Homo sapiens: one gene and its partners. The protein of the gene in region 5 purifies or fractionates together with the protein of the main gene of each other region. This does not show direct contact. Each region holds a gene or a part of one and is shown on either strand. Other genes may lie near its edges. The genes, in order: YBX1, WARS1, ELAVL1, TARS1, TRIM25, IGF2BP3 and IGF2BP1.

What was found.
Region 1: the proteins of TRIM25 (region 5) and YBX1 purify together in Homo sapiens (affinity purification with western blotting; 4 studies listed by BioGRID and IntAct, with this or other methods). This does not show direct contact.
Region 2: the proteins of TRIM25 (region 5) and WARS1 fractionate together in Homo sapiens (co-fractionation; 2 studies listed by BioGRID). This does not show direct contact.
Region 3: the proteins of TRIM25 (region 5) and ELAVL1 purify together in Homo sapiens (affinity purification with mass spectrometry; 2 studies listed by BioGRID, with this or other methods). This does not show direct contact.
Region 4: the proteins of TRIM25 (region 5) and TARS1 purify together in Homo sapiens (affinity purification with mass spectrometry, with the first as the bait; one large-scale study listed by BioGRID). This does not show direct contact.
Region 6: the proteins of TRIM25 (region 5) and IGF2BP3 purify together in Homo sapiens (affinity purification with western blotting; 3 studies listed by BioGRID, with this or other methods). This does not show direct contact.
Region 7: the proteins of TRIM25 (region 5) and IGF2BP1 purify together in Homo sapiens (affinity purification with western blotting; 2 studies listed by BioGRID, with this or other methods). This does not show direct contact.

The regions. Positions count from the first base shown.
Region 1 is NC_000001.11:42,695,407-42,699,912, forward strand, and holds part of YBX1 (Y-box-binding protein 1), read left to right. Parts: intron 1-792; coding exon 793-882; intron 883-1,235; coding exon 1,236-1,538; intron 1,539-1,773; coding exon 1,774-1,856; intron 1,857-4,506. UniProt on the Homo sapiens protein: DNA- and RNA-binding protein involved in various processes, such as translational repression, RNA stabilization, mRNA splicing, DNA repair and transcription regulation.
Region 2 is NC_000014.9:100,354,492-100,358,997, reverse strand, and holds part of WARS1 (tryptophan--tRNA ligase, cytoplasmic), read left to right. Parts: intron 1-4,431; coding exon 4,432-4,506. UniProt on the Homo sapiens protein: Catalyzes the attachment of tryptophan to tRNA(Trp) in a two-step reaction: tryptophan is first activated by ATP to form Trp-AMP and then transferred to the acceptor end of the tRNA(Trp).
Region 3 is NC_000019.10:7,960,110-7,964,615, reverse strand, and holds part of ELAVL1 (ELAV-like protein 1), read left to right. Parts: intron 1-808; coding exon 809-1,133; 3' UTR 1,134-4,506. UniProt on the Homo sapiens protein: RNA-binding protein that binds to the 3'-UTR region of mRNAs and increases their stability.
Region 4 is NC_000005.10:33,454,087-33,458,592, forward strand, and holds part of TARS1 (threonine--tRNA ligase 1, cytoplasmic), read left to right. Parts: intron 1-858; coding exon 859-980; intron 981-1,500; coding exon 1,501-1,618; intron 1,619-1,915; coding exon 1,916-1,980; intron 1,981-2,062; coding exon 2,063-2,141; intron 2,142-3,170; coding exon 3,171-3,317; intron 3,318-4,479; coding exon 4,480-4,506. UniProt on the Homo sapiens protein: Catalyzes the attachment of threonine to tRNA(Thr) in a two-step reaction: threonine is first activated by ATP to form Thr-AMP and then transferred to the acceptor end of tRNA(Thr).
Region 5 is NC_000017.11:56,886,403-56,890,049, reverse strand, and holds the end of TRIM25 (E3 ubiquitin/ISG15 ligase TRIM25), read left to right. Parts: 3' UTR 1-2,141; downstream 2,142-3,647.
Region 6 is NC_000007.14:23,344,583-23,349,088, forward strand, and holds part of IGF2BP3 (insulin-like growth factor 2 mRNA-binding protein 3), read right to left. Parts: intron 3,153-4,506; coding exon 3,018-3,152; intron 1,481-3,017; coding exon 1,358-1,480; intron 1-1,357. UniProt on the Homo sapiens protein: RNA-binding factor that may recruit target transcripts to cytoplasmic protein-RNA complexes (mRNPs). This transcript 'caging' into mRNPs allows mRNA transport and transient storage.
Region 7 is NC_000017.11:49,042,385-49,045,884, reverse strand, and holds part of IGF2BP1 (insulin-like growth factor 2 mRNA-binding protein 1), read right to left. Parts: intron 2,458-3,500; coding exon 2,335-2,457; intron 1,919-2,334; coding exon 1,799-1,918; intron 895-1,798; coding exon 820-894; intron 1-819. UniProt on the Homo sapiens protein: RNA-binding factor that recruits target transcripts to cytoplasmic protein-RNA complexes (mRNPs). This transcript 'caging' into mRNPs allows mRNA transport and transient storage.

The DNA of each region.
Region 1 (4,506 bases), on a different chromosome or scaffold from region 5:
TTTAAAGCCTGTTACATTATCTGTGTAATGGGATTAACAATACTTTCACATGTCCTGTCTCATAATGAGATTGAATAGATAGTAAGTGAAAGAATGTTGCAAAAAAATTTCATAGAAACGTGAGATGTTACTCTTCCTCCCTTCTCTTAACAGTCTGGAGAAAGTAGAAGCAACAAGTCTCTAATACAAGATTTATTGAATTCTGGGGAGGTGATAACTAACAATTCCATGCAGTCAGATCATATAAAGAATGACATAGTTAATACACATGAATTGCATTTCCACTGATGTATTATCAGATTGGAAGGGATTTTGGTTGACATTTGTAATTGAGTTTGATACGGTAACACAGGGGCAAAGTTGGTTTGGTCAGCTTTGAAGCATGCAAAACCAAACTCGCCTGTCATCTAAACTGACGCAGTGTGGGGCCACCTTCTCCTATTAAGTGCAGTCCTCAGGGGATAGATGGATATCCTCATTTGTTAAAAGTTATATATAATGCTTTTGCAAAAAGCAGTTTTTAAAATGATGTGTCTGTCTTGAGTGTTAAATTACTTGTTTTAGTTTTGTAAATAGTGGTACAATGCTGGGGCCTTGTATGATTGGAGTGTTTTTGTTGAAGTTGGGGATAGTGTGGTCCCCGCTTTCCTAAATTTATTGATGGTTTGGTCTTATTTAAAGCAAATCTTAAGTGTATATCCAAGCTAAAATAATATTGACTCTGGTACATTTTAAATGAAAAAGCACATTATTCTCCCCTGTTAATCTATTTTTGGAATGTGATATTACTAGACTGCCATAAAGAAGAATAACCCCAGGAAGTACCTTCGCAGTGTAGGAGATGGAGAGACTGTGGAGTTTGATGTTGTTGAAGGAGAAAAGGTGAGGATGCTTTTTGTGTAAAGGTTTGACTTCAGTATGGAAATATTTTGGAGGTCTCATCCATTAGGATGGTGGCTCTAATGTGGATGGATGTGTTCAGGTGACCTCATGAACACAGGTGCATCAAGCCTAATGTTCTGGCTGCAGTTAGAGGGCAATCTCTTCAGAACAGTGAGGAACTGATATTTAGTCATTTCTGTGCACCCCTGGTCACGCAGTTGCGCCCCCCCCCCCTTTTTTTTCCTTAACTTTGTTGTTTTTTGCTTTGTTTGAAAATGTTCTGATTTCCTTTTGAAAGTGTTGAAAGTGTTCTGATTTCCTTTGTCACTATCAATATGTAATGGCTTTTGTAGGGTGCGGAGGCAGCAAATGTTACAGGTCCTGGTGGTGTTCCAGTTCAAGGCAGTAAATATGCAGCAGACCGTAACCATTATAGACGCTATCCACGTCGTAGGGGTCCTCCACGCAATTACCAGCAAAATTACCAGAATAGTGAGAGTGGGGAAAAGAACGAGGGATCGGAGAGTGCTCCCGAAGGCCAGGCCCAACAACGCCGGCCCTACCGCAGGCGAAGGTTCCCACCTTACTACATGCGGAGACCCTATGGGCGTCGACCACAGTATTCCAACCCTCCTGTGCAGGGAGAAGTGATGGAGGTAAGTTTCACCATCAACAACAGCAATGTGATAAGTTCTGGTAGGACTGTTTAGAGCTGTTAATTATATGGAAAGCAACTTGGATTCCTAGTAAGAACCAAAAGGATTAATTTATAATGTAGTCACAATTACTAGATGGTCTGTTTTGTTTGTTTTTTAACTCTTGGATTTATCTGGTTGGGTTTTTTTATTATATTACTGACCCAGTAGGCTTAATTTCCATTGTCTTTTTCAGGGTGCTGACAACCAGGGTGCAGGAGAACAAGGTAGACCAGTGAGGCAGAATATGTATCGGGGATATAGACCACGATTCCGCAGGTATGGTCCACGTAAACATGTTTCTATTAAAATTTCCTCAAACCCGTGTTAGGACTCAGCAATATCATGCCTCTCCTGCAGACTCATTTTTCTGTTAACACTTCACGTTTTCTTTCATCAGATGCCTAAGAGGTGAACCTATTAAAAACAGCTTGTATAGATGAGGTCTGCTTTATACATAAATTTTTTTAGAAAATGATGAGGGTTTGGAATTTCAAATTTTCTGTCCTTGAACAGGTAAGATAATATTTTAAACCACACCTTTTAAACCTGCCTCCTTGGTAGGGAGAAAGGAAAGCATTAGGAGTATCTGAATTGTACCATGGCATTAGTGAAGAATCAACAGTGTTATCACTTGAAATGGCATACATTATCTTCCACTAAACACTTCTCAGTTTAGATATGTACCCCCTTTTTTTTGGAGTTGGGAGTTGTCAGCTCAAAGTTGCAAAATGAAATTGCTCCACCAAGAATTTACATTCTGCGGGGGGAAATCCAGTCTGTCGTTAGACAACTATCTACTTGAGTGGGTATTAGAAATCTTATTAATAGATGTCATTATTAGAGTAATCGAGGAAAAATTCCATGAACCAAGCATATTTTAGTCCATGCCGTAGTATACTTTGAGGCAGTGTTCCCAGTCCCACGGTGGTAGGATAGGATGGTGTAATAGTTGTTTCTCTAAGGGTTTGATATCAAAGCATTGAGTTTTCATAGGTGATCCCCAAAAGCTGACAGGTACCTCTGAAGAATCAAACCAATACAGTAATAACGCATCTTAACTGATCACTTAAATCGCAACTTTTAAATCCCCAAATTTTTAAGTGTCAAGTTTATTATTCTAGAAGTATCCAACATATCCAAAATATACTGTGAGTCTATAAGAGGGGGTTTCTGTATATAGGTTTTTAAATTTTACCAAAGTTGGAGCACTTAGTGAAGTTTTAGGAACTAGGGAATCTAGTCGAGGTTGTATTACATGTATTTATCAGCACATGTACATTGAGAGTTTTGCAAGAGCAGCTGATGTCATCATATTTTTTGTATTAATATGTCTTGTCCTGAGTTTTCAGTTAAAAGAGCTGAGGTCCTAACTGATCACTACCACAATTGAAGATCTCTGATTCAGTTTTCTACCAGGAGATTGTGTTAGCCAGATGCTGGATGTTGAAGATAGATGGGTTTTTATTTTTCAGAGTAGGTCTAAAATAGCCTCTCATGGCAGTCCATCTGTTAAGTCCATGGGTTCCAGCAGCAGAATCTTTGGTTTACCTTTTGTTACACTGAAGAGCTTAAATGTTTTGCCTAGTTTCATTGATGTCCTTAAAAATAGCATAATTTTGTGTTTGTATTCAGTGCTTCAGTTCACCGTTGAGTAAATTGTTTGTCTTTATATTGACAAACAAGCTTGCGGTTGATTTGTCTCTTAGAAAGGTATCTTTGTCCATTGTTACCCCTCCAGTGCAGAGGTTTTTGCCTTTTGGTTTAAGTTAGACTTAATGTCTACGTGTTTCAATGTTTAGAATGCTCAGTCCTGCCAGATAGTTGCAGAAGTAACATAAAATTGCTTGGAAGTTATCAATGAATGCTAGACTTTCCAAACTGTGCAGGAATCTTTTGTTCAAATGAGAGTAAATGAAACATGCTGCCCCTAATGCATGGAATGGTGTGAAATTCTGACTGGTGTGGGTTCAAGAGCAAACTGAAAGGGAAATCTTAAGACAGAGTATAGTACAAGTGTTGCTGAAAATGAGACTAATAGTAGTAAGGGGAAAATGGGGGGTCAAAAAGGGAGGTTTTTTGTTGAGAAATAACATTTATAGGCTGAAATGCAATCCAGGATAACAGTTGATGGCAGGAAAGTGACTGCTGGAACTGTTTTCTTTCTCAGAGAGGGTAGGGTTTTGCCCACAGGTGAAAATGTTGACCTTTTGTTAGGAACCTGCCGTTTTCCTGTGTAAGAAACAAGAATACATGGGCACGCATGTGTTAATGGGAAGACATGGAAGCCTTTGGTTGCTAAATTGAGACGAAAGTAAAGAGGAAGTTTGAAAAGTTTGGGGCAAAGAACCCTCTAGAACAGAAAATAGAGATGGTAAATTTATAAGTAATAGGATAACGATCATAAATTAGAAGTGAGTTCACCCAGCTTGACTCTGTGTTTCTAGCCATTTGGGCATCAGGCTCAGGTTGGGCAGAGAGTTGGATTTATCCAGATTTGGTTTATCCAGATCTGGTTTGATTTATCCAGATCTGGTTTATCCAGATGAAGACACTGGGGTAGGGATTGGTCATATGATTAGTGGTAGACTTTATACTTGGATAAAGAGGGGAGAAAAGGGGAAAATGAGGGTTGTTTTTTTTTTTTTAAATTGTTTTGTAGAAATGGAGTTGCACTGTGTTACTCAAGCAGTCTTGAACTCCTGCCCTCAAGTGATCCTCCCCAAGTGCTAGGATTACAGGTGTGAGCCACTGTGCCCAACCTTGGAGTGAGATGAATAGGTGATAGAATCGCTGTATTACAGGTCCTAGATTAAGAATGAGAAAACAATAAGGAATTACCTAAGAAAAATAGGAAGGTACATAATTGGAAAGTTGAGTGGTATAATTGAAAAAACCCAGGTAGAAAACAGCTGGACTGGGAGGTCAG
Region 2 (4,506 bases), on a different chromosome or scaffold from region 5:
TTTATAGCCATCCTAATAGGTGTGAAGTAGTATTTCATTGTGGTTTTGATTGTATTTCCCTAATGACAAGGATGTTGAGAATCTTTTCATGTGCTTATTAACAATTTTTATATCTTTAGAGAAATGTCTATTCAGATCCTTTGCCTACTTTTTAATTGGGTTGTCTTTTTATTGTTAGTTATAATAGTTCTTTCTATATTCTGGATACTAGTTTCTTATTCAAATATTACTTGCAAATATTTGCTCCCATTATATAGGTTGTCTCTTCACTCTACTGATAGTCCTTTGAAGTATGAAAGTTTTTAATTTTGATGAAGTCCAGTTTATTTTATCTTTGATTGATTGTGTTTTTGGTGTCATATCTGAGAAACCACTGACTAATCGAAGGTTGTGAAGATTTACACCTATGGTTTCTTCTCAGAGTTTTGTGGTTTTAGCTCTTACATTTCAGTTTCTGATCCTTTTTGAGTTAATTTTTGTATATTTGTGAGGTACAGCTCCAACTTCATTCTTTTGCTTGTGGGTATCCAATTGTCCCAGCACTGTTTTTTGAAAAGACTATTCTTGGCTGGGCGCAGTGGCTCATGTCTGTAATCCCAGCACTTTGGGAGGCCAAGGCAGGCGGATCACGAGGTCAGGAGATTGAGACCATCCTGGCTAACACGGTGAAACCCCATCTCTACTAAAAATACAAAAAATTAGCCAGGTGTGGTGATGGGCGCCTGTAGTCCCAGCTACTCGGGAGGCTGAGGCAGGAGAATGGCATGAACCCGGGAGGCGGAGCTTGCAGTGAGCCGAGATCGCGCCACTGCACTCCAGCCTGGGTGGCAGTGAGACTCCGTCTCAAAAAAAAATAAGAAAATGTGAGTACTCAAACATGGTTCTTTTTCAAGATTGTTTAGGTATTCTGGGCCCCTTGCATTTCCATATGAATTTCAGCTTTTCCATTTCTGCAAAAGCAGCAGCTAGGATTTTGATAGGGATTGCACTGAATCTGTAGATTCATTTGTGGAGTATTGCCATCTTAAAATATTAATTCATCTAATCCATGAACATGGGATGTCTTTTCACTTCTTTGATTTCTTTCATTGATGTTTTGTAATTTTCAGTGTATAGGTTTTGCACTTCTTTGCTTAGATTTATTCATTAGAATTTTATCTTTTTAATGCTATTCTAAATGGCATTTTCTTAATCTCATTTTGATTGTTCATTGCTACTATATAGAAATACAACTGATGGCCGGGCACGGTGGCTTACACCTGTAATCCCAACACTTTGGGAGGCCGAGGCGGGTGGATCACTTGAGGTCAGGAGTTCGAGACCAGCCTGACCAACATGGTGAAACCACATCTCTACTAAAAATACAAAATTGGGCAGGCATGGTGGTGGGCGCCTGTAATCCCAGCTACCCAAGAGGCTAAGGCAGGAGAATCACTTGAACCCAGGAGGCAGAGGTGGCAGTGACCCGAGATCGTGCCATTGCACTCCAGCCCGGGCAAAAAGAGCAAAACTCCCTCTCAAAAAAAAAAAAAATACAATTGATGTTTGTGTATTAATCTTATATCCTGAAATTTTGCTGAGTTTATTAGCGCTAATGCTTTTTTTCTTTTTGCAGATTCGATAGGATTTCCTACATATAGGATTGTATCTCCTATGATTAGAGACAGTTTTACTTCCTCCTTTCCAATTTGGATTTTTTTTTCGTTCCTAATTTCTCTGACTTCAACTTTCAATAGGATGTTGAATAGTAGTGGTGAAAGTGAGCATCCTTGTCTTATTCCTGATCTTAGGGGAAAAACTTTCAGTAAAGACTGAATATACACCATTTAGTATAATGTTAGCTGTGGGCTTTCTATATACCCTTCAACATGTGTTTTTATTATGAAAAGATGTTAGATTTTATCAAATGCATTTTCTGTGTTTATTGAGATGATCATGTGGGTTTTGGCCTCTATTTTATTAGTATGGTGTATCACACTGATAGGTTTTTGCGTGTTTAATCAACCTTGCGTTCCTGGAACAAATTCCACTTAATCATGGTGTTGAAAATCAATTTATTTTCAATCATAGTGTATAATCTTTTTTATATGTTGCTGGATTTGGTTTGTGAGTTGCTGAGGATTTTTACATCTGTGTTCATAAGGGATATTGGTCTGTAGTTTTCTTTTAATGTCTTTGGTTTGGTATCAGGGTAATACTGGCCTCATAGAATGAGTTGGGAAGTATTTCTTATTCAATTTTTTTTGGAAAAGCTTGGGAAGGATTGGTATTAATTCTTTTTTGAACATTTGATAGACTTTACCAGTGAAAATGGGGTTTTGGGCTTTTCTTTGTAGGAAGTTTTTTGATTACTAATTCAGTCTTTTTGTTTGTTCCAGATCTGTGTATATTTTCTATTTCTTCTTGGGTTCGTTTCAGTAGTTTGTTTCTAGGAATTTGTCTATTTCATCAAGGTTATCTAATGTATTGGTATACAGTTATTCATAGTATTCCCTTATGTAGTAATCCTTTTTATTCCTATAAGGTCAGTAGTAATACCCCTTCTTATATTCCTGATTTTGGCCGTTTGAGTCTTCTCTTTTATTCCACACCCCCCCCCACACACACACACACACCCAGTCACTTTGGTTCAAAGTTTACTAATTTTGTTGGTTTGTAGTCAGCATTTTTTATCTTAGCATGGCATGGTTCTTCTCACTGCCTTTGTGACTTATTTATTAACTGCAGTATAGTAATACTGTAGCCTCTTGGCTTAGGAAAGCATAGGACCTGAGTCATTTGCCCATTCTCAAATTTCAAACTGCCCCTCTGTCTAATTTTGTCATCTGTAAAATTGGGGATTAAATGAGATCTACTATGCACAGTCAAGCTTCAAGTGGTGGGCAGGTAACTGGGTTCCCTTAGTAGCTGAATGAGTCTCTGCTGGAATCCATCCTCATAAAACATGATCTCAAAATTGGAACCCAGTAAATTTCTGCACGCTTGTCAGGAGCACCTCACCCCAGGACCGAGCACACAGTGAGTTCTCAGATGCTCCACATAAACACAAGAAAAGCAGCTCGTGGCACAGTTACATTTTTTTCTCTTCTGTAAGCCCATATGGTTAGTTGTGAGAACCAAAGAAGGATTCTTTCCTTCCAAAATTATGGGTTATTTTCTTTCCTTATTTCAAAAGCAGTATGTGAGCATTTCATGGGGAAAAAAAATGAAAACTAAGCCCAAAAACCAGAACACCCACAATTGTATCTGTCCAGAGATAAGCAATGTTGACCCTTGGCTTGGGGAATATAAGGAGAAGTCACTTTCAGAATACTGTTCTCTAGATTCTCCTATCCAGACCTCTGGAAAAGGTAGTTATTCCTCTTGTATTTGGGGACACTTTACCCAGAAACAAAGGACATTCATCCTCGAGCGTTGGTTTCCCACCCTGCTGAACATTGGAACTCCTCACGGAGCTTTTTAAAAATACAAATTCCCGGCCAGGCGCAGTGGCTCACACCTGTAATCCCAGCACTTTGGGAGGCCGAGGCAGGCAAATCACGAGGTCAGGAGTTTGAGACCAGCCTGGCCAACATGGTGAAACCCCGTCTCTATTAAAAACACAAAAAATTAGCTGGGCATAGTGGCAGGTGCCTACTATGCCCAGCTACTCGGGAGGCTGAGGCAGGAGAATCGCTTGAACCCAGGAGGCAGAGGTTGCAGTGAGCAGAGATCACACCACTGCACTCCAGCCTGGGTGACAGAGTGAGACTCTGTCTCAAAAATAAATAAATAAACAAACAAACAAACACATTCCCAGAGAGCACCTCAGATCCATTGAATCAGTCTCTGGAGGTGGGGCGCAGGCAGCTGTGATTGGAAGCAGCCTGGTAGGGAGGGGGATGACTCTTGAGTGACTTGCAGATGAAGATACCTAGTCCCAAGCTGGCTGAGGGGCCCAGATAGATCTCCAACTGGGCACTTGACCTCTGAACTCCCAGAGGACAATTCTTACTTTCCCTGCTAAGCCAGGACTGTCTGGTCCCATGCAGTTTGCCTGGTATTGGTCTGAGAGTCCTCGGGGCTGGGTGATTCTGAGCAAGGATCATATGGTGTTGGCCTGGTATCCCCAGGGAAGTGTACCAAGCTCACAGTATGTCGGCACTGATGTTTGGAGGGATTCCAGGAGTCCCAGTAACTGCATAGCTGGATCCATCTTTTAAACACATTATTCCAAACCTACACATCTTGTCTTTTAAAACACTCACAGGAGAAACCATTTCAGTAGAAGTTTCCTGTCTATATTTATATCATAAGCACCAAAGGTAACAAATTCTAGTTATTATCCATGTTGTTTCGTCTCTGTCTATATTTTCCATTTCCAAAAGTGCATTAGTGCCTTGATATTTTTCTCAGAAAATCACACTCTTCCTCTTCTCCTTTTTCCTTTAGAGATATGAATCAGGTTCTTGATGCCTATGAAAATAAGAAGCCATTTTATCTGTACACGGGCCGGGGCCCCTCTTC
Region 3 (4,506 bases), on a different chromosome or scaffold from region 5:
TGATCCTCCCACCTTGGCCTCTCAAAGTCCTGGGATTCCGTGCTTGAGCCACCATGCCTGGCCCAGAAAGGCTTATTTTTTATGTAAATAAAAGTATCACTGTGGAAAGAGCCCCACGTGTGTGGTCAAGTTTGGTGAGCCTGCCGTTGCTGGTGTCCCAGGGCCCTTCCCTGTCCCTTGAGTTCTCAGTCCTCAGTGGTTTGGCCCCTGACCCTCAGGGGATGTTGAGCTCTAGCCACAGAGGGTTGGTTGCCTGGTGCTTGGGAAGGAATTCTTGTGCCCTACAAGTGGCCCTGGCAAAGGCGTGCTCTAACCAGAGACCACTGGGCTGTCAACGCTTGGGGGCGGGTCATGATAAGGGGAAGGTGCAAAATTTGGAAAAAGGAGTTCAGCCCCTGCACGTACCCCACAGTACGAGGAGAGTTTCCTCCAGGGAGAACTGAGGCTGTCAGAGGCCTGCAGAGCATTTCTACCTTCAACGGAGGACCAGGAGAAGCGCCCATCATCTAAAATGTGGGGAACCGCAGGAACCCCTAAACAGAAACCCCGACATACACAGTGGGAGGAGTGGAGGGCACCAACCAGCCCCTCAGAGTCAGCTCCCTACAGAACAGGGTCCCGCCCCTCCACTACTGTATTTAATTCCTCCCAGGGTTTTGACCCATGCAGGTGTCTCAACCGTGAGCACCTCGTGGCTGCGCAGAGCGGGATGGGGCCCAGCGGCCATGGTCAGCATGCGTCCAGGCCTTGCCCCATCCCCAGGCCGCCTGCGCTGACCGTGGCCTGACGCTTGCTCTCTGTCTGCCAGGTTCTCCCCCATGGGCGTCGATCACATGAGCGGGCTCTCTGGCGTCAACGTGCCAGGAAACGCCTCCTCCGGCTGGTGCATTTTCATCTACAACCTGGGGCAGGATGCCGACGAGGGGATCCTCTGGCAGATGTTTGGGCCGTTTGGTGCCGTCACCAATGTGAAAGTGATCCGCGACTTCAACACCAACAAGTGCAAAGGGTTTGGCTTTGTGACCATGACAAACTATGAAGAAGCCGCGATGGCCATAGCCAGCCTGAACGGCTACCGCCTGGGGGACAAAATCTTACAGGTTTCCTTCAAAACCAACAAGTCCCACAAATAACTCGCTCATGCTTTTTTTTGTACGGAATAGATAATTAAGAGTGAAGGAGTTGAAACTTTTCTTGTTAGTGTACAACTCATTTTGCGCCAATTTTCACAAGTGTTTGTCTTTGTCTGAATGAGAAGTGAGAAGGTTTTTATACTCTGGGATGCAACCGACATGTTCAAATGTTTGAAATCCCACAATGTTAGACCAATCTTAAGTTTCGTAAGTTATTTCCTTTAAGATATATATTAAACAGAAATCTAAGTAGAACTGCATTGACTAACCAGTCCCTCTGGATGGTGGTGAACCTGAAGCATGCTTTAACCTCTAAGACTGTCTAACACGCGTTTCATTCAATGTCTCCACAGACTGGGTAGCAAAAAAATCACCTTTTAGTTTTAGTTTTTAATCTAAAGATGTTAGACAGATGCTGAGTGTGCGTTTTCTCAACCGCTTCAACATTGTAAGCGATGTATGCTTTGGTTGACAGGAAGTTCCTTTTCCAGGCAGGTCCCGTTGCCACCTCCTGCTCACTCAGTCCCGGGCTCTGCCGAGTGGTCCTGGGAATGGCGGCGGGCCCGTCCAGCGTGGGCCACCACTGGGGCCGGGGGCCACGGGCTGCATGCTGGGCGGGCCCTCCAGAGAAGGACACAAACGTGTTTCGTAAGCCCAGGCACCAATGGGAATGGACCAAAGAGTTTCAGGGAAACTCCAGTATATTCCAGAGTCAGATCTAAGCTCCAGGCACGCCTGAAGATGTGTTGCTACTCTGACATCCCGAGTTTCTGTCCACACATTGCATGCACAGCGCCCCACACATTGGATACTGTTGTTCACGATAATTTCTCCCGTTTTCCAGAGCATTTAACATAGCTTGGAGGCGTAAAATGGCTCTGTATTTTAATAACACAGAAACATTTGAGCATTGTATTTCTCGCATCCCTTCTCGTGAGCGCTTAGACCTTTTTCTATTTTAGTCGGATTTTGTTTTGGAATTTTGCTTTTGTATGAACACTCAGCAGAAAAGTACTTACTTCTTGCCAGTTATCTATTAACCAAAACCTTTGATTTGTAGTTTTAAAGATTAACCCTCAAAGTTCTCTTCATAACTGCCTTGACATTTTGGGTTGTTCTGTTCTGTTAATTTTCTTTTGCTTTTTTGTGTTTTTTGTTTGTTTTTACTTTTGCATTTAAGACCATTAAATTTGATTTTGTTTTGCTCGAATTTTGTTTTGTTTTTTATTTTACCTTTTCTTTCTTTTTGGCTAGGGAAGGTGCAGGTGGCCCAGCATTCAGGGAGGAGTCGTAAGATCTTAAGAAACCAATCCTTGCCTCAAGCAAAAGCATTTCTGAATCTGTGACGCAAGAATGTGCAGTTACAGGCTGGTGGCTTTTAAACCAGGAGCCCGGAGGAAGGGTGAAAGAGAAAGCCTGTGAAATAGGCAGGGCCAGATCACCCAAAACTCCTCAGGACTGGGATCTGGCGTTTATAAATAACTAGTTTACAGAGAGAATCACAAACAGGATAACTTAGTACCAGCAGTTTTTAACCTTGACGTGAGACTAAAACGTGACCGTAGGCTGTTTTTTAGTTATTGCTCTCATGAGATGATGGCTGTATTTATCTGTTTATTTATACCTATTTATGTATTTATTTATTGAAGTGTGAAATTGAGCAATAGGCAGGCACCACCGTCCCCAGAGCAGGTCAGCGTCTCGAGAGGCCCCTGGACAATTGAGGATGCCCATCCCCTCCCCTTTCCCTGATCTTTTACTGAGGGGCTGTGTGCGCGATCCTTGCAAATTGATGATGTTGCCATCCGTACCCAGGCTGTGTCTCATAAAAGTCGGCCTGGTGCCAGAGAGGACCTCCTTTCTCCCACAGAATCCCAGATCCTCAGGAAAAGCCAAAACCGAGGCCCATTGCCCGGATTCGACACAAAAGAGGGTCCCTGCTCTGTTGCCCGAGAGCAGTCTGCATCCTGGGACCAGAATGCTTTCCTGGAAAAAGAAGCCTTTCAGGTTTCCCTGGGCCAGCATCTTCTGATGGAAGGTGGGAGCCAACACCCTTCTGATGGAAGGTGGGAGCCAACACCCTTCTGATGGAAGGTGGGAGCCAACACCCTTCTGATGGAAGGTGGGAGCCAACACCCTTCTGATGGAAGGTGGGAGCCAACACCCTTCTGATGGAAGGCGGGATTCCCGCTTCTGAAACTCCCCCTGGAGTCTCACTCCCACACATGCCCATAGCTAGCATTCAACAGAGAACTCTGTCTTAAGCTTCAACTGTGAAAATGATGACGGGCTTGTAGCACCTCAGCTTCTTTCCTCGCCCCCTTTTATCTGAATCCTATCAATTATTCTGATGCTGGGACAGGTGAGAAGAAACTGTGAAGTATATGAGCCTTTGAAAGTTCCCTGAAGTTTCTCAGTTCAGGAACATTCTCATTGTATGTGGTCTCCGCTGTTTGAACAGCCTTCTAGCTAAAAAATTCCAAAGCCTTTATTTGGGAGTCTTAGCTTGCAAGCTTGTGGAAGGATTTAGCTTAACAACTGTCACTCCTGAAAAGCAATCTCTGTTCCATCAAGGTTCTAGTTGCTGGCCCTGTGTCCTCAAAGTTCATTACATCTTATCAAGGCCTGTTTGCAAAGGGGAGATCCCTTTTCTTAAAAAAGGCTCAACCCAAAAGAAACCATTTCTTAAAAAATTTTACATAGATCAGTTGTATTTCTATTTAGCAAAAATGAGTGCTCTGCTTTTATTTGGGAATTTCGATGAAAAAGCGTTCAGAGTAGATAATGTTCATTTATCAAAAATCTGGTTTGGGAAATACCAAAGAGGCTTTGATTGAATTCCCTTTTGACCCGTGTGTAACTTCCTCTGGTAGTTAGACCCCAGGCAGCTCCGAATTTGTGAACCTGCTTCCTGATGAATTCTCCCTTGTTCCCCCTTGGCTCTGCCATTATTTCGTTTTCAGTGTAATTTGCCAAGCCGCAGTTTTCTGTGCTGGCTGTGCCTCTAGTCGCAGCTCTGTGACTGATTCCCTCCCGGGTGCTGAGTCCCCTCCCCGGCCACCATCCTGCGTGAATATCCTGAAATTCATGGGCTTCCTCGGGGGCCCGCCCGCAGGTGGTGCTGGGTGGGTTCCGCCACCTTCTCCTGGAAGGTGAGCCTTTTCCTGGCCAAGGGCAGCTGCCTTAACCTCTGAGAGTCTGCGCTTGGCCTTAGTCCTGGAGACCCAGCCTCCAGGGACTGAACCGTGCTGCTGTTGGGAGCCAAGACCGGCCCTTTGGAGCCGGCAGCCCAGGGGTCCCTGCTGGATCAGAGAAATAGAAGCACCCGAAGACGGTTAGTGGCAATTCCTTGACCCGGTTTGCTTCCAAATGA
Region 4 (4,506 bases), on a different chromosome or scaffold from region 5:
ACTGCCTTTATTGGATAATTTCTGTATTTTTTTCTCATCTTAAGATGCAAATCTGCTGGATAACACTATAAAAGTCAACCTGCATGTGATGACAAGATTTTCTTTTTAATTCTCCATGGCTGTGTATCATATAAGGGGAGACAAAGTATTTTGTTTTAGTGATGATTGTTCACTTATGTATGTGGATTAGTGGTTTTCAAATGTATTTTGGAGCCCTCAAGTTTCTTACGAGAATTTTTTAATGTCACTTTGGTACCTTAATACTAAATCTTGAAAACATTGCTTTGGGTGTATTCTGACTCATCCCAGTGATTACTTTAAAACCAAGTACTGCCATTTGATTTCAGTGTACAGATGTTTGTCCTCGTGTTTTGTCATTGTGTTGTGGGGTCGGGTTGTACCACCTTTGTTTTGGGCCAGTAACAACATGTAATTTCTAAGTGATGTTCCATAGCCAGCTAAAGGCCAGATCACAGTGTCTGAGACATGGTGCTGTGGGCACATTGACTCAAAAGAACCTGGGCCATTGCAATCAATGAGTTAGTCACATTGTGAGTAGCAGTTGTTTTCAGAGAACAAAGTCTATGTCATTTAATTAGTGATGCCAAGTTTAGTTTAATTTGTTTGAAAACAGCTAAACCAGATGATTTCCAAAATAAAAATACACTAGTAATTGGAAGCCTTTTGAATTACTTTGGCTATGGATAGAAACAGTAGTTTATAGATTTAGAAATTTAGGATTTTATATATTGGGTTTACTTGTAGTAAATATTATCATCTGTCTCTTTCAGACAACCACATTAATTGGCAACTTGTATGCCAAGACTCAGACCATGCCATTTTTCTTTAAATTTTCAGGTGTATTGGCACTCTAGTGCTCACATAATGGGTGAAGCCATGGAAAGAGTCTATGGTGGATGTTTATGCTACGGTCCGCCAATAGAAAATGGATTCTATTATGACATGTACCTCGAAGAAGGGTAAGCCATCAACTAGATAAAGAAAACTGAAGTCAATGACTATGGATCCATAAGTTATTCTTAAGAGTTCTCAGTAAGGGAGGAATGATATAGATCTCACTGCTTCTTCATCAGGTATGCCCATTATCAGTACTTGAAGTGTTGCAATTTACCTGAAGTAATAGAGGATTTGATGAGACCTCTGTTCTAGATTGATGGAGGTAGAGTCCTAAGGTATTTTGGGAAATTCAGGGAGACTGGTCCTCCCCTCTCCTTTAAAACCTGGTGATAGAGTTGCGGGAAGGGGTCACTAGTGAGAAAGGTCTCCATGGATGACCAAGGTAGAAGCTACTGAAAATATAAAATGTAAAAATTACTTATGAAAAATGTTTTGTTTAGAATTCTAAGATACGATGCAATAGTCTAATTTTTTAATATTAAAACCCTTGAAGTATTCCAAATACTATTTCCAAATGAACATTTTTCGAAGCCATGGTGTGATTCGAATGGAATGAAAAGATTATACTTTCTTCTCCTTCAGGGGTGTGTCTAGCAATGATTTCTCTTCTCTGGAGGCTTTGTGTAAGAAAATCATTAAAGAAAAACAAGCTTTTGAAAGACTGGAAGTTAAGAAAGAAACTTTACTGGCAATGTTTAAGGTAAATTGAACCATAGTGCGTGGCCCCCACTGTTAATATCATTTATTCATGTTAGTTGAAGTGACACCACTGGCGTTCCGTGTACTAAGCTGAAGTCTAATTGGTTCTTTAGCAAAAATTAAGTGTTTTTATTATTTTTTTAATTTCATTTTTTTCCTAGCAAACCATTCCTTCAACATGTTTTTAAAACATGAAGTATCAACATTTATATTCATACAGTGCTACGTTTTAGCTATAGTACTTAGAAGTAAAAATTAAAGGACAGTTTTTTAAAATAATAATTTTTCCTGTTTTCAGTACAACAAGTTCAAATGCCGGATATTGAATGAAAAGGTGAATACTCCAACTACCACAGTCTATAGGTAAGAATATTAGATGTCATTAAATGTATCTGGTATGTATGTCATTTTGTCTTTGTTAAAATTCCTTTCATTTTATCTTTAGATGTGGCCCTTTGATAGATCTCTGCCGGGGTCCTCATGTTAGACACACGGGCAAAATTAAGGCTTTAAAAATACACAAAGTAAGTAATGTAACTTTAAAGACTGTGAATGTATCTGTCTAGAATAGATATATGTTTAAACTTTCACTGATTTCTCTTTACCATTTTCTGTTGCACATGAAAGGATGGTATTTTCTCATGCTCTCTATTAACTGGGAGCTGTATGCCATCAGGATTTTATAATTGAAATCCCTCAAGGGGTGACTGACTTGCTGTCATTGCCAGAGCAATCACAGGGGATGGAGATTTTACAAAATCATACAGCATGGGCCATCCTGGCTCTATAAAAGCTTTGAGACTCACTGGGAGTATGTGCTTTTGCCCTTTATATGTCTAAATTAATAATTTCCCAAGTTGTTGTTTTTAACAGAACCCAGTTTTATACTAGTTCATAAACATTTTATGGAGGTTTTTAAAATGCACTTTAAATCAAGAGAATAATTGAGTCATTTCAAGATTTTTTTTTTATTGGCTCATTTCTATTTTTGCTCATTTTGTGAGAAATGCCTTTGCAGGCAAAGTAATGTTTGTGGAATTGTGGTTGAGTATTGAGGGGTGGGCAGTTTTGGGGGTATTGGGGTGTAGAATGGGTCTCACTCTGTTGCCCCAAAAAGACAGAGTGGAGGACCACTTGAGCCTGGGAAATGAGGTTGCAGTGAATGGAGATCGTGCCACTGCACTCCAGGCTCAAGCAGTCCTCCTGCCTTAGCCTCCTGAGTAGCTGCGACCATAAGCGCACACCACCATGCCTGGGTAATTTTCTTTTTTTTAAATAAAGAATGGGGTCTCCCTGTGTTTCCCAGGCTGGTCTCGAACTCCCAGGCTCAAGCAATCCTCTTGCCTCGGCTTCACAGAGTGCTGGGATTACAGGCATGAGCCACTGCACCCACCTGCAGATTGAGGGAGGGGCATTTTTGAGGATAGAAAACAGCCAACTTTGTGCTGCAGAATGAGTAACTACTCTAACAAGGCCTCAAAGCAATTGGGAGTTAAAATAAGTGAGATGTTTACAAATTTGAATGTTGTTTCATGGTTAATCCTTGTTTTCAGAATTCCTCCACGTACTGGGAAGGCAAAGCAGATATGGAGACTCTCCAGAGAATTTATGGCATTTCATTCCCAGATCCTAAAATGTTGAAAGAGTGGGAGAAGTTCCAAGAGGAAGCTAAAAACCGAGATCATAGGAAAATTGGCAGGGTATGTTCAAGAACAATGATGTGTCTTGACTGAGTTTTCTTCAACTTCATTTGAAGTTTGAAATTCAGCTGCATGAAGTACTAGGAATTTTGTTTTGAAGAGATGTTGTGGCTTTTTAGTAACTGGTGCTATGTCCTGTACAAACTATAAACACTTACTGATTGTCCACATTATCTGCCTGGAGTATGCTCAGTACCGCACAAAAATGCATTTGAACTACTTTTATTGAGAGCAAACACTGATGATCTACGGTTTTCTGTAAAAGAAGTATAACAGCTTCTCATAGAGCTGGGAGAACTATGGAAACCCTCTAGTTTCACTGACTCATTTAAAATGTGGAAACAGAGTCCCACAAAGATTAACCTACTTGTTGCCCAAGGTTTAGCAGCATGTCGCACATGGATCCTGTGCTATCATTTCCTCTACCCATTATCTCTGTTACTGCTGAATGTCCTCTAAACTGGAAGTTAGGCTAGATAAAACATTCCCCCTTAAAATAGGCACTCTGTGCCAGGGGTCCTTGGCTATTAGGTTATGAAGCTTGAGCTGGAGGTAGCAGCCACTGCCTTGCACCCCTGACTACCTGACATTCCAGCTATGAGGCAGCCAGCAATGATTGATGGGCCCTTCCCTGAGGGCTTTTGGGCACTTGGGGAGGCGGATGTTGGCAAGGAGGTAGGAGGGTGTGTTTCTTTCACCATGACCCAAAGTCAGCCAACTTTACCATCATCTATTTCATTATCAGTGTCTTTTTCCCAGTCTCCTTCCTGATACTCTTACTAAGAAAATAAATACATACATAAATAAAATGAAAAAAGATCCAGATCTTGGAGCTTTAAGGAATTTAAGAACCATGAGAGGTACTGCAGTGGATAGTTAAAGAACTGAAGGGACCCTTATTCCCTGCCACTGTTGGGGAAACTTGACTGGATTGAGGAATATAACAGGCAGGGCATGTGTTACACGTCTGCCAAATTGTAAATCAGCTGCAATTCTATAACATCAGAAACACTGACATGGTTTCTTTGATTCAGGAGTGGCACTGATTGAAATATGGGACATCATGACCATATTCTGAGCTCAAGAACACTGAAATTTATGTATATATACACACACGTATACGTGACGTACATAAACATTCTTTTGCTTTTCTTTTACCCAGGACCAAGAACTATATTTCTTTCATGAA
Region 5 (3,647 bases):
CACTCTAGGCAGGCTCAGAACACTTGATATTCCTGACAGCTACACACCTGACATGCAGGTACATACCTGATCGGTGTCATCTCCTAACAAGGATTTTCAGTTCCTCGGGAGAGCAATAATCTTTGTAGGAAAGACATCCCTGCAATAGGTGATATGTGGTCCTTAGAAGTTTTATTCCTTTACTACTTGGAAGAAAAGTTCTTTGGTGATTCTTCTCTGCTTTTGAAGATGATCAAAAGCATCTTCATTGATTTTCTGAAACGAAAGCCTTGTCTGAAACCAATTAATACTTGGGAAACAGCTGGGCTTGGAGGAGTAGAATGCCAGAGATAAATCCATGGCTCCTGCTCTGGCTCTCTTCTGCAGAAATGAGGGCAACAGTGAGGCCACTTCCCTGGCAAATGTGCAGCTCAGGATAGGGAAGCATAAGACCCTCTGTTTAAAAGAGAGTCAAGTAGGTAACCAAAGCCAAGCTCTGTGCAAGGTGCTTTGGAGTTGTAAATTGAGGAGTGCATCCTTGCTGTCTTGAACCATTCTGTTTGCAATGGTGAGACCTTACATAACCTAGCCTTGCAGGGCCGCCACACAACCCTGGAGTCCTAGAGTTGGAGGAACCTTTGTATCCATCTGACTTCTCATTTTGCAGAATATGATGAGAAAGTAGAGGATCGCTCTGTTCACCACTCTTGCTATTCCATTAGTGGGGAGATGCCTGCTAGCATGTGTGAGGGGAACACTCTGATACACTGGGAAGTATCGGAAATTCCCAGAAACACAAACATAAAATAACTCTCCTAGACCCAGGTACTGGGGACTGTCTCAGTCCGTGTGGCATGATAAATAAAAGGTTAGGATCAAGTCTTTGTATTTTTCAAGATGTGGTAGCTGATTATTCCTGTTTTAAGTACTCTGAAATTGATCTGTGATCAATAATACTAATATGTTATCTTTTACCGTATTCTGCCTCTCACTATTGATTTTAATTAGTTAGGAGTATTTGAGCTGTTATTTCTTGAGCTTAATATTTTTTTAGAGTTAACTCTTTAAGGAGATAATCATGGCTGTAGACAAGGCCAGGGCTGGCTGACGTGCCTTAGAAGGTTTGAATGCAATAAAGCGGTGTTTGGCGTTCTCCTGCATTGTAGTGCGGGTACAAAATGCTATTTGTTCGTCATACTGTTGTCAGCAGATGAGCCGCCCACTACAGACGGCTACTGCCCAGGGACCTGCCCAGGCCCCACCCAAGGGCTCCCAAGGGTTGAGATTTCTGCAGACCTATAGCCAGCACACTTAGTCCTGCCCTATATAGAGTTCCTCTTCGGGAAGCTTTTGATAAGGAATTCTCAGACCGATAGGATGTCTGTCTGGGCTTTGCTGCGGGACAGTCTAACTGTGGGGGCTAGGGGAAAGCAGGAGAGTATCGATCAAAGAGTAAGCCACACACGGATAATCAGTTACTAGGGATGGAGGTGTGAGGGTTCATTATATTATTCATTTTACTGTTGTATATGTTTGAAAATGTCTATAATAAAAAGCTTTAAAAAAAAAAAAGAAACAAAAATAGTTCAGGCCAGCAATGGGCCCTCCATGTTCAGTGGATTTTATCCTTGTTTCAATTGGGGTAGGAGTTCCAGGAGGTGTGGATTGGAGGTTGTCTAAAGAATTGAACTGGCCTTTGTCCCTGCTTCCTGGGAGGGAGACTTTCAGTCCTTGACATTTCCAGGGTAATAGGAGTGTCTTTGTTATTTGTGAGGCCATGGGATCACACCTGAGCTTATGCTAAAAGGTGGGATGACTCAGAGCTGGGGCTGGTCACCAGACAGACTGACCATGTGATTAGAGGTTTGAGGCTTTGAGTCAGCCTGACCTATGGGGCGGGGGACTGGAGGCTGAGTTTAATCATCTGGCCAGTGCTTTAATCAGTACATCATGAAACCCTAATAAAAACTCTGGACACTAAAGCTCAGCATAGCTTCCTGGGTGGTGAAGCTGTGGCTATGCCGGCAGGGCAGTGTGCCCTAATTCCACGAAGAGGGGGCATGGGAGCACTGTGCTCAAGACCCTTCCAGACCTTTCCCTGTGTCTTCCTTGGCTTGTGGAGCTGATTTGTATCCTTTATAATAAAACTAATCATAAGTATAGTCCTGAGTTCTGTGATTTTTAGTGAATCATTGAACCTGAGGAAGATCATGGTACCCTCCTGGGATTGTAGGCAGTTGGTCACAAGCGCTGATGGCCTGGGATCCCCACATGGGGCTGGTGTCTGAGGTGAGGGCAGCCCTGTTGGGGACTATGTCCCTTCGCTGGTGGCATCTGATCTAACTCTGCTGGTCGTTGTTAGAATTGTGGTGCGGTACACCAGGTGGTGTCAGAACAGAGGCGGTGGGATCTGCACACCTTGAGTAAGCCCTTCTCGACCAGCCTGTTGGAACAAAACACACTACTCTTCATGGGAGCCTCCTGAGTTTCTTCTCACCTGTGTGAAGTCCCCTTTGTTTACTGTCCTGAGTTTTGTTCTCGCTCATCTCCAACCCCTCTTGTAGTTTTTTCTTCCTCACTGTCACTGTAACCATAAAAATACTCAGTATGTCAGTGATAGACTTGTCTTTCTATTCAGAGATGACTCTTCAACTGTCCGGGGACACTTTTTTCCAATAAAAAGTTCAGGATGGTAATTTGTGACTCCTTACTAAAGGCAAGCTGGGAGTGCGTGTGTGTGTGTGTGTGCACGCATGTGTGGTTTTTAAGTCATTTGTGGTCTGCTGGGGTGACCCATGGGCTAAGTTTGGACTTGCTCATAGGTTTTACATCTGTTTTCTCATCAGTTCCCAGGCAGTCTTGAAATGCCATAGCATCATGAATAACCGAAGGATCTCCAACCGTTATTGACCTTGGAGTTGCAGTCTACCTGTATTTTATTGTAGATCAATTCCAATACATAAAATACAGGAAGACTCTAAAAAAGCAAATCAAAGAGTGAAGGGGAAATGATACATTTAAAAAGCCTATTTTAAAGGGGGCAATTTGGAATAAATGCACACACAAAATGGGTCCTTTTGCTGATGCCTCTGCTGCCTTATTGAGCTGTATGTCCTTATTCCAGGCACATCTCCTTTCTGAGTCTTAACTTTGCCTGCATTAAAGGTTCCATGAGGACCAGATGAAATTTTTGAGGTAAAAATAGGTCGACATTTAAAATATGGTGCATGTGATTACTCTACCTTCTCTACATACCCATACACACACCTGCATTTTGAGGGAAATCTAGTTGGGGGCTGCCTTGGGAACTAGGACACAGCATTATAGCCAAAGGGCCTTTTCTCTTAACCAAGGCATGTTGGCATTGCCACCACTCCCTTCTTGGGGTCACATTCTCCACAGAGTTCCTGCACCCAAGGGCTGTTGACATTAGGTGAGCCCCACCTACTCCCTTCCCTTGTGTATTTGAACTTTGTTCTTCTCCTTTCTGCCTCACTATATCCCCTTCCTCCCTGCCAGCTTCCTGAGCTTGTTCCGTGAACCACAGACAAGCCATTTGCATGCCCAGGCTGTGCTGAGCCCTGTTTGCTGTCCTTGGCACCCTGTCCCTGATCTGGGATGGCAAAGCAGGCAGGTGTTCTCAGATGGCTTCTAGGGATCCAGCCACA
Region 6 (4,506 bases), on a different chromosome or scaffold from region 5:
CTAAGCCTATGCTGGTCAACAGCCTTGAGAGGAAAAGCAATGGGAGACATGTGCCATGGAAAACAGAACTAAGTACATAAATTGAGAGGATATGGATTATTGGTACAAATCTCCTTCATCTTCCTGAAGTTCTCATTTTCACTACTAGTATAATGTCACAGGCTAACCTTGAGCCAGATGAATGGGAAGTTATTCCTTAACATTTTCCTCAAACTTGTTAAAAATGTAAACATTTGTATAATGAAGACTATTTCTCTTAGACTACTTTAAAAAGAAGTCTATAATTCTAATTCAGTCTCAACCTGGCCCTGCCAAGCATTTTGTATTACAGTTTTAAAAATAGCTGCTTCTAGAATAACTTTTGAGATTTTTTTCTTTTAAAACTCTCCCCTTTCTGGGGGTAAATTTAAGACAAAGTAGTATTACTTATTGAATTTACCACTTTGTGGGGTTTTTTTCCCCCTTTCTTTACAACCAAACAGAAGTTTCCTGCTTCCTTACTACCTCCTTTGAAAACTCCTTGTACACAAACACCGTGCAGTCTTTCCCCTACCACTCTTCCTCAGTTCATCAATCTTTTCCCACCTTTTTGAGTACTCTGAGTGAAACTAAGAATGGCCACCCTCAGAAAAACCTTTCCACGTAATTTCAGAGCATCCACAGATTCTAAGTGTGGTAGCCTGCCTCCAAGGTGATTCCTGTCACCCAGTTATCTGTAGTCCCACACATACATACCAAATAGGGCTGACTTGTGTAAACAACATTAGAAAAATGATAGAGTATAACTTCTGAGGCTATGTCATAAAAGACATTGCAGTTTCCATCTTGACAGCTGCCATGTCTTGAGAACACTCAAGCAGCTCTGTGGAGAAGCCCATGTGGGAGGAACTGAGGCCTTCTGCCAACAGCCAGCATCAACTTGTCAGCAGCATTGTGAGACCCCAAGCCAGAACCACCCAGCTAAGCTGCTCCTGCATTCCTAACCCACAAAAACTAGCTGAGCAATTAATGTTCACATTGTGTTAAGCTGTCAAATGTTGGGATAATGCGTTACACGACAATGGATAATAAACTGGGTTATATATTCCAACTTTGGGAATAAATGTCATAAAACATAGTTAAGACTGCTTTAGAAAACATGAATGTAAAGCATTTGGTTCCTCCTGCCAGAAGCAGATAATGCTTTCAATACGGGTCAGAAACCTAACAGGCAGCAAGCTGTATTTGAGAAACCATGTGTAAGTACGGCAGCACAGGCTAGCTGAAGCAGCTGTAAAGTGGGAAGCTAAGCCCAATACACAACATGCAGCTTACAGTGTTGGAAAGTTTTCTTATTCAAAAGCAAAGGAGCACTCACGGAGATATCGTGATTTTAGTGTCTGTGTCTTGCTCAATTTTTTTAAGATTTCTTCCTTCTTTACCAATAAGACGTCCAACAAAGTTATTATGAGCTAAAATCTTCAAGGGGATCTCTTCTGTGCTGTAAATAGAAAAGTGGCCATAAAATTAGAATAAGTAAACCTATTCGTGGGTAAAAAGACAATATTCACTCATTAAACATTTACTTCCTACCTACCATCTGGGAAGCACTGTGTTAGGTACAGCTTAAAACTTGCTGACAATTGGCCAGCATTCTAGCAATGCATGAATAGAAGGGGAGAAAAAATACAGAAGTTAACTTCTAAAATAGTTCTTATTTTATTCACTTCAGGAAATATCTTCAGTGATGGAGTCTCTTACTCAAAACCATATTCCTAAACCCCTACTACCAGAACACAACGTACAAATAAAAAACAGTACCATCCAGTACAAATATACACCTGGAGATATGTGCATAATTTATAGAAGGAAACAGAAGAAACAACAGTGGTTACACTTTGGGGGAAGGGCATAAGAACAGGAAGGGGAGCTTTCACTTTTCATTTTGTAGCTTTCTGAATTTCCCAGTCATATATATATAAAACTGTTTAAAATGTCATTGTGGTTAATAGATGGTGGGCTTTTCCTTTTTCTTTCTTTTTTTTTTTTTGAGACAGAGTCTCCCTCTGGCGCCAGGCAGGCGTGCAGTGGCGCGATCTCGGCTCACTGCAACCTCCGCCTCCCGGGTTCAAGCCATTCTCCTGCCTCAGCCTCCCAAGTGGCTGGGACTACAGGCACATGCCACCACGCTCATCTAATTCTTGTATTTTCAGTAGAGACGGGGTTTCACCATGTTGGCCAGGATGGTCTTGATCTCTTGACCTCATGATCCACCCGCCTCGGCCTCCCAAAGTGCTGGGATTACAGGCATGAGTCGCCACACCAGGCCTATTTTTCTCTATACTAAAATAATTCTTCTTTAAAATTTTTACTTTAATAATTACATTCTTATGATATGGCACCCACATATAATATTACTAAAACATATTTAAAGTTCTCTACAAATTAAGGTTGGTAATGAGGTCCCCACACTAACTCCAGTGCCTTACTCTCGATTCTACTTTCAGTGCAGCGCTGTTCTGTACGCTAAACGTGGCACAGAACCCAACCTTCACTCAAAGTTCCTGTGGAAGAAATAGAGTTCCCGCCTGCATTACCCAGATAAATCTCCAGTTTGCCTTAGAAGAGACTTAGGCACTTCCCCACCTCCACACTCCCTGCTGCTCCAAGGTGGGGCCAGGCAGTGGACAAGAACAGAGCTCCAATGAGCTCCGAGTAAAGGATGAGTCAAGATTTGGGGCTCCTGTTTTGGGTTAATCCAGGATACCTCCTGGTCCTAGGTTCCCCAAGTTGCCTTCTTCTATAGCTGCATTTCTCTTCCCCGTTATCACCACTCGCCTATGTTCAAATGTGAATGAAAATATTTAAATATTAAAAGACATACACTTCACAACCAGATCAACAGTGCCAACCACTGTAGCTCATCAGGATATCATTTCCCTCTGTTTGTTGGCAATTCCCAAGAATTGTGTCAGAGATGTCAAAAATACAAGAGCACAAATATCAACCTCTTTCACAGGACAATCTTCTTTACTCACAATTTTATATCTTGAGCTTCCTTATGCATAATCTCCAGAATAGACTTACAAGCCGCAGAGGTGCCTTCAGGAGTAGAGAGGATAGTAATCGACTTCTCAGCAGCCCCCGCATTTTCTTTACGGTGGACATCGATTCTGATAGTGGGCGCAAGCAGAGAGGAAAACGAGAGCAGTAAGCGTGTATTCACAGTGGAGTCTGTAATTACCAAATGCAAAGTCATAGGGCTTCAGGGCAAAGCAGATGACTCACTTCCCTCAAGAGCATAAACTTTCAATAAGCTGTCAACATTAATGCCTTAAGAGGCAAATTTTAATTCTAGGAACATTCCCCTTTCTCTTTCCTCAATCCAACCAAGCGGGGACATCTTTTCATTCTACCCAAGCTGTTTGTGCTTACAGCTTCCTTTCAGATGCCACAGAACAAATGTCTCATGACAAAGAGCCTGGATTCAATCTGCTCTAAAACAAATAGGAACTGGAGGGCATGCCAAGAGAGGAGTTGGAATCCCATAAGCCAAGTTGAACTGCTTATTCTGCACAGTATATCATTCTTCATTCATTGGATGAGCAGATTTCACCAATCTGCTTCCCCTTTGCAAGGTTCTTCCCACATTTTGCCTCCTTGATAGAGGAAAGTCTGCAACGAACAGTGATAGGAATGGAACCTGGACAGATGGCAATTCTACTTCAAGAAAAGCAAGTGGCCAATAAACTCAAAATGATGTTTAATTTCACTAGTAATTATATGTCTGCCAGCTAAAAGAATGTCATTTTCTTCTAGACTTGCAAAAATTGAGATAGAAAAAATTAAATATGGGCAAGATGATGGGTAACAAGGCACACTCAACACTTTTGGTAGGAGCAAACTGGTCAGCAAAATGCTGAGCACCTTGTGACTCAAGAACTGTATTTCTTGTAACATCTACTCCTGGTAACATCTACAGATATAGTCTCATACATGGGTCAAGAGTGATGTTTCTTACCCTTGGCACTACTGACTTTTTGGGCCAGATTCTTTGTTGTGGATGGGGTGTCTTGTGCATTGTAGGAAATTTACTAACTTCCCTGGCCTGTACCTACTAGATGCTAGTAGCATGCCTCTCTCTCAACTCTAACAGCTAAAAATGTCTCCAGACATTGCCAAATGTCTACGGGGGTTGGGGCAGAGAGATGATCATTTGTAGTTGAGAACCACTGGCATGGGAAAGTTCCGTTTCTAACAGATAGAAAATTAGAATTATCTAATTGCGGGAAGAGATGGTTAAATAACAGTATATTCATATCATACAGATGTTTTTGAAAATGTGGTAAAATTACAAGTACCAACACAGTAAAAAGTCCTTAAGTGAAATAATGCAATTCACATCATGACATGATTTCTTTTTTAAAGTCACACATGTTAGTAGATACAGGCAACAAATCCTATAGAGATACATCCCCAACTTACCAACAGCTACCCAGGTGAGACGAATGGTAACTTTTTAATTTA
Region 7 (3,500 bases), 7.8 Mb from region 5:
AAGAGGAGGTAATTGTTAATCAGTGGTTCATATATCTGTGACAAAAGAGAAAAGTGGGAAAAAGGAAGCTCCAGCCCATATTTTCTGGCCCACAGGCCCTCCCCATCCTAGGCGGGCTAACCATCTAAGGCAGGTGAAGGGCAAGGCTCAGGTGGGCAGCTTGTCAGCATTCCTTCTGCTTAGCTATCATACTGGAGACCCTGGGTGGAGATTATGAGTTATGAGTAATTGAATAAACACTTCCCAAGGGAAAAAATAGTTCCCAGAGGAATCTAATTCACAAGCTACAAACCAGACCTATGGAATCTGGACGTGGCACTGACCAGCATTTCAAGGCCCTGAATGGCAACTAATCAAGTCACACAGAGGGCAGGCCTGTCTGACTCTCCAGTGGCCCAGAGAGCTGTCCCAGTCCTCTATCCTCACATATGTTAGGTTAAGCTAGTTGATGGTTCATTTTTTGGCTGTCTGATCAGAAGTTCAAGAACCTTAGGATTTAGTGGGGACATAAAAGATGAGAATTTGGCATTAAAGGCCTTCCTTAGAAATGACAGCAGAGTGCAAATAAGATGCCCTCAGACTTCTTTCCTTCCCATCTTCTTCTGTGGACCTTAAAAAGGGAAGACGAAGTCAACAGAAATCCAGTTTGATGTCAATTTGAAAATAGCTCTGCAGCCCTTTATCCTGCATGGAAGGCTTAAAGATGTGATGAGGACTTGACAGCTAACGGGAAACTGACCCAGCCTTTTTCCTACCTCAGGGGAAATACCCAACCTCAATTCCTCCATGTTCAGCTTGGAAAACAATAAAGACCAAAACCTTGAATTGGGCCTCTGGCGGTCCAGTGATGATAACCATACGAACTTTGGAGTCAGGTGTTTCGGGTGGTGCAATCTAAAAAGCAAAAAGCTAGTCAATGAGGGACCCTCTATGGGAAGACCCCCACCATGTCCACTTCATCCAGTTCCCCTTCTACCACCCTTACTCCCAACTACCCATTCTGAAGACTTAGGGGAGGAAGAACAAAGACCCTGAAGCCCACATCATTACGCCTTCACACCAGAATTATTAGGAGGGCAGAGGTGGTCAGTTAGAAGGATTGGCTTCAATGACACTTTCTAAGTAGGGCCTCCTGCCCCCTCCACCTACCAATCTCCCAGAGAGGTTTCAGTGGAGTCTTGCCAACAGGCAAGGACACAAATGAAATGACCAACGGATAGAGGGCAGTGACTGCACCTCCACTGGAGAACAATCAAGGTTTTTGCTCAAAGCTTTTAAGACAACTAAAGCAACCGGATTTAGGTTTGTGAAACTCTAACAGCATCCTTGTTTCACTATGACAGATTCTCCCTTCTCTCTCCCCTGGACCTTGGCCAGGGAAGGTGACAGACAACTAACACTTACTTGGTGTTAGTATGTGAGCGAAGGGCTTTGGCTGCGTAGCCTCATAATATTGTACTGACGAGGAAAGTGAGGCTCAGATCATATAGTGTATTGGGGGAAGGGGTGATGAGATGGATCTTGGATTTGAACCCATCAGTTTGTGTTAGAACCTAAGTTCTCTTTCTATGTTATAACCCTGCCCCTGCCCAGCCTGAAAACCCAGAAGCACTGAAGCCATCCCATGGGGACCAAGCAAGATCAAAAACAAAGAGGACTTCGATTCCATGGGGGAAAGGTCCCTCATATGACACACAGAATTCTCAAATGAGTAGGGGGAATATGGGAGAAAGTGCAGAGTGATAAAAGCAGAGACCCCTCCCTTTCCAGAAACAGGAAGACCCACAGAGCAGATCACCTTGATGGAGGCGCTGGCAAACCGGGAGAGCTGTTTGATGTGCTGCCCCTTCTTGCCGATGATGGCGCCCACTGCCTGGGCGGGGATAAACACCTGCACCATCTCCTGCTCGGGAGCCTGCTGCCAGGATAGGAGGCGTTGTTACCAGGGGGCCCAAGTAGCATGGCCCAGAAACCCTCCACTCCCCTGCCTTGCATCCTCAAGGAGGAAGGAGTACAGGCACCAAACCGCCACCCTGGGCTGCCAAGGGATGCTGTGAGCTCTTTAGCTCTTCCTATGCCCAGTAGGGCTAAAGGGAAGAGGCCAGGAGAGAGTAAGGGAACAGTGCTGTCTATGCCCCGGGAGCATTCTAGGCAGACATTTGGGAGCCTCAGAGCCAGTGGCTAGGAGCACTGGAGAGGAGGGATGCCTCTGAGACCTTCCTTCCCTCTCCCTGCAAACTTGCCAAGCATCCAACTCCCAGAGCATGCTGAGTCCCCCTTAAGGGAGGCCACATATGGGCCCAGGGATCCCGTGTAATAAGATCTTCCACCTACCATAAAGGAGCTATAGGGAGCAGCCCCAGTAACGCTGCTGGGAGGCGGCGGGACTGCGCTGGATGAAGCTGGGAAAAGACCTACAGCAGCCAGGTTCAGGCCAGGGATCAGGTGAGACTGCAGCTGGGGAAGAAAGATGAGGAGGAAGAGTCAGCACACCCTGACAGGGGCTTGTGTGTGACCCCCGCTGTATAAAAGGCGAGTAGCCCCAGAGGCAAGTGGGCCAAAAACATGAATTACATACTTTTCCACAAAAGCCTATTCTGTGCTTTTCATACACTCTCACCTACACACTTCGGGTGTGGAATTTTAAGTGATATGATGTTCTCACTGGACTAACGGCTAGCAATTGCAACCAGAAATGCCAAACAGTTGTACACCCTCAGGAGTCCTTCCTCTCTGGCTGTTCAGACTGCTGGAGACAGACGATAGACCCATGACACTATACTATAACCCCCTATATGAGAAAAAGGCGTGGAGACAGAGCTCCATTGGACTTCTAGGACTCTGATTCTAAACATTTTTGGTCCTGTACCCCAACCCCAAGTCTCCTTTAAAAATCAGATGAGTTGTGTGCAGTGGCTCATGCTTATAATCCTAGTACTTTGGGAGGCCAAGGTAGGAGAATCGCTTGAGCCCAGGAGTTCTAGACCAACCTGGGTGACACAGCAAGACCCTGTTTCCAAAAAATAAAATTTTAAAAAATTAGCTGGGCATGGTGGTGTACACCTGTAGTCTCCTAGGTACTTGGGAGGCTGAAGCAGGAGTATTCCTTGAGCCCAGGGGGTCAAGGCTGCAGTAAGCTATGATTGCGCCATTGTGCTCCAACCTGGGCAACATACCAAGACCCTGTCTCAAAAAAATAAAATAAAAATCAGATGAAAACGATGGACCCCCTCATTTCAATAAAGTGCACACAAACACAAATTGTACACATACTTGGAATCACAGGACTCAAAGCCCAAGATTGGACCCCTACTCTAGGAACCAGGTGAAGAATCCTTGCTAATTAAATACTATTTAAATACTATTTCTGATAGTCGAAGTCCAAAAGCATCAACTAAAGCTCCAAGGCCACACGGCACAGGGCACATGTCCATCACCCTGCACCCCACAAGCTGCTGTTGCTAAGACTCAGGAAAGGATAAGCAGAGGGTACTACCCAG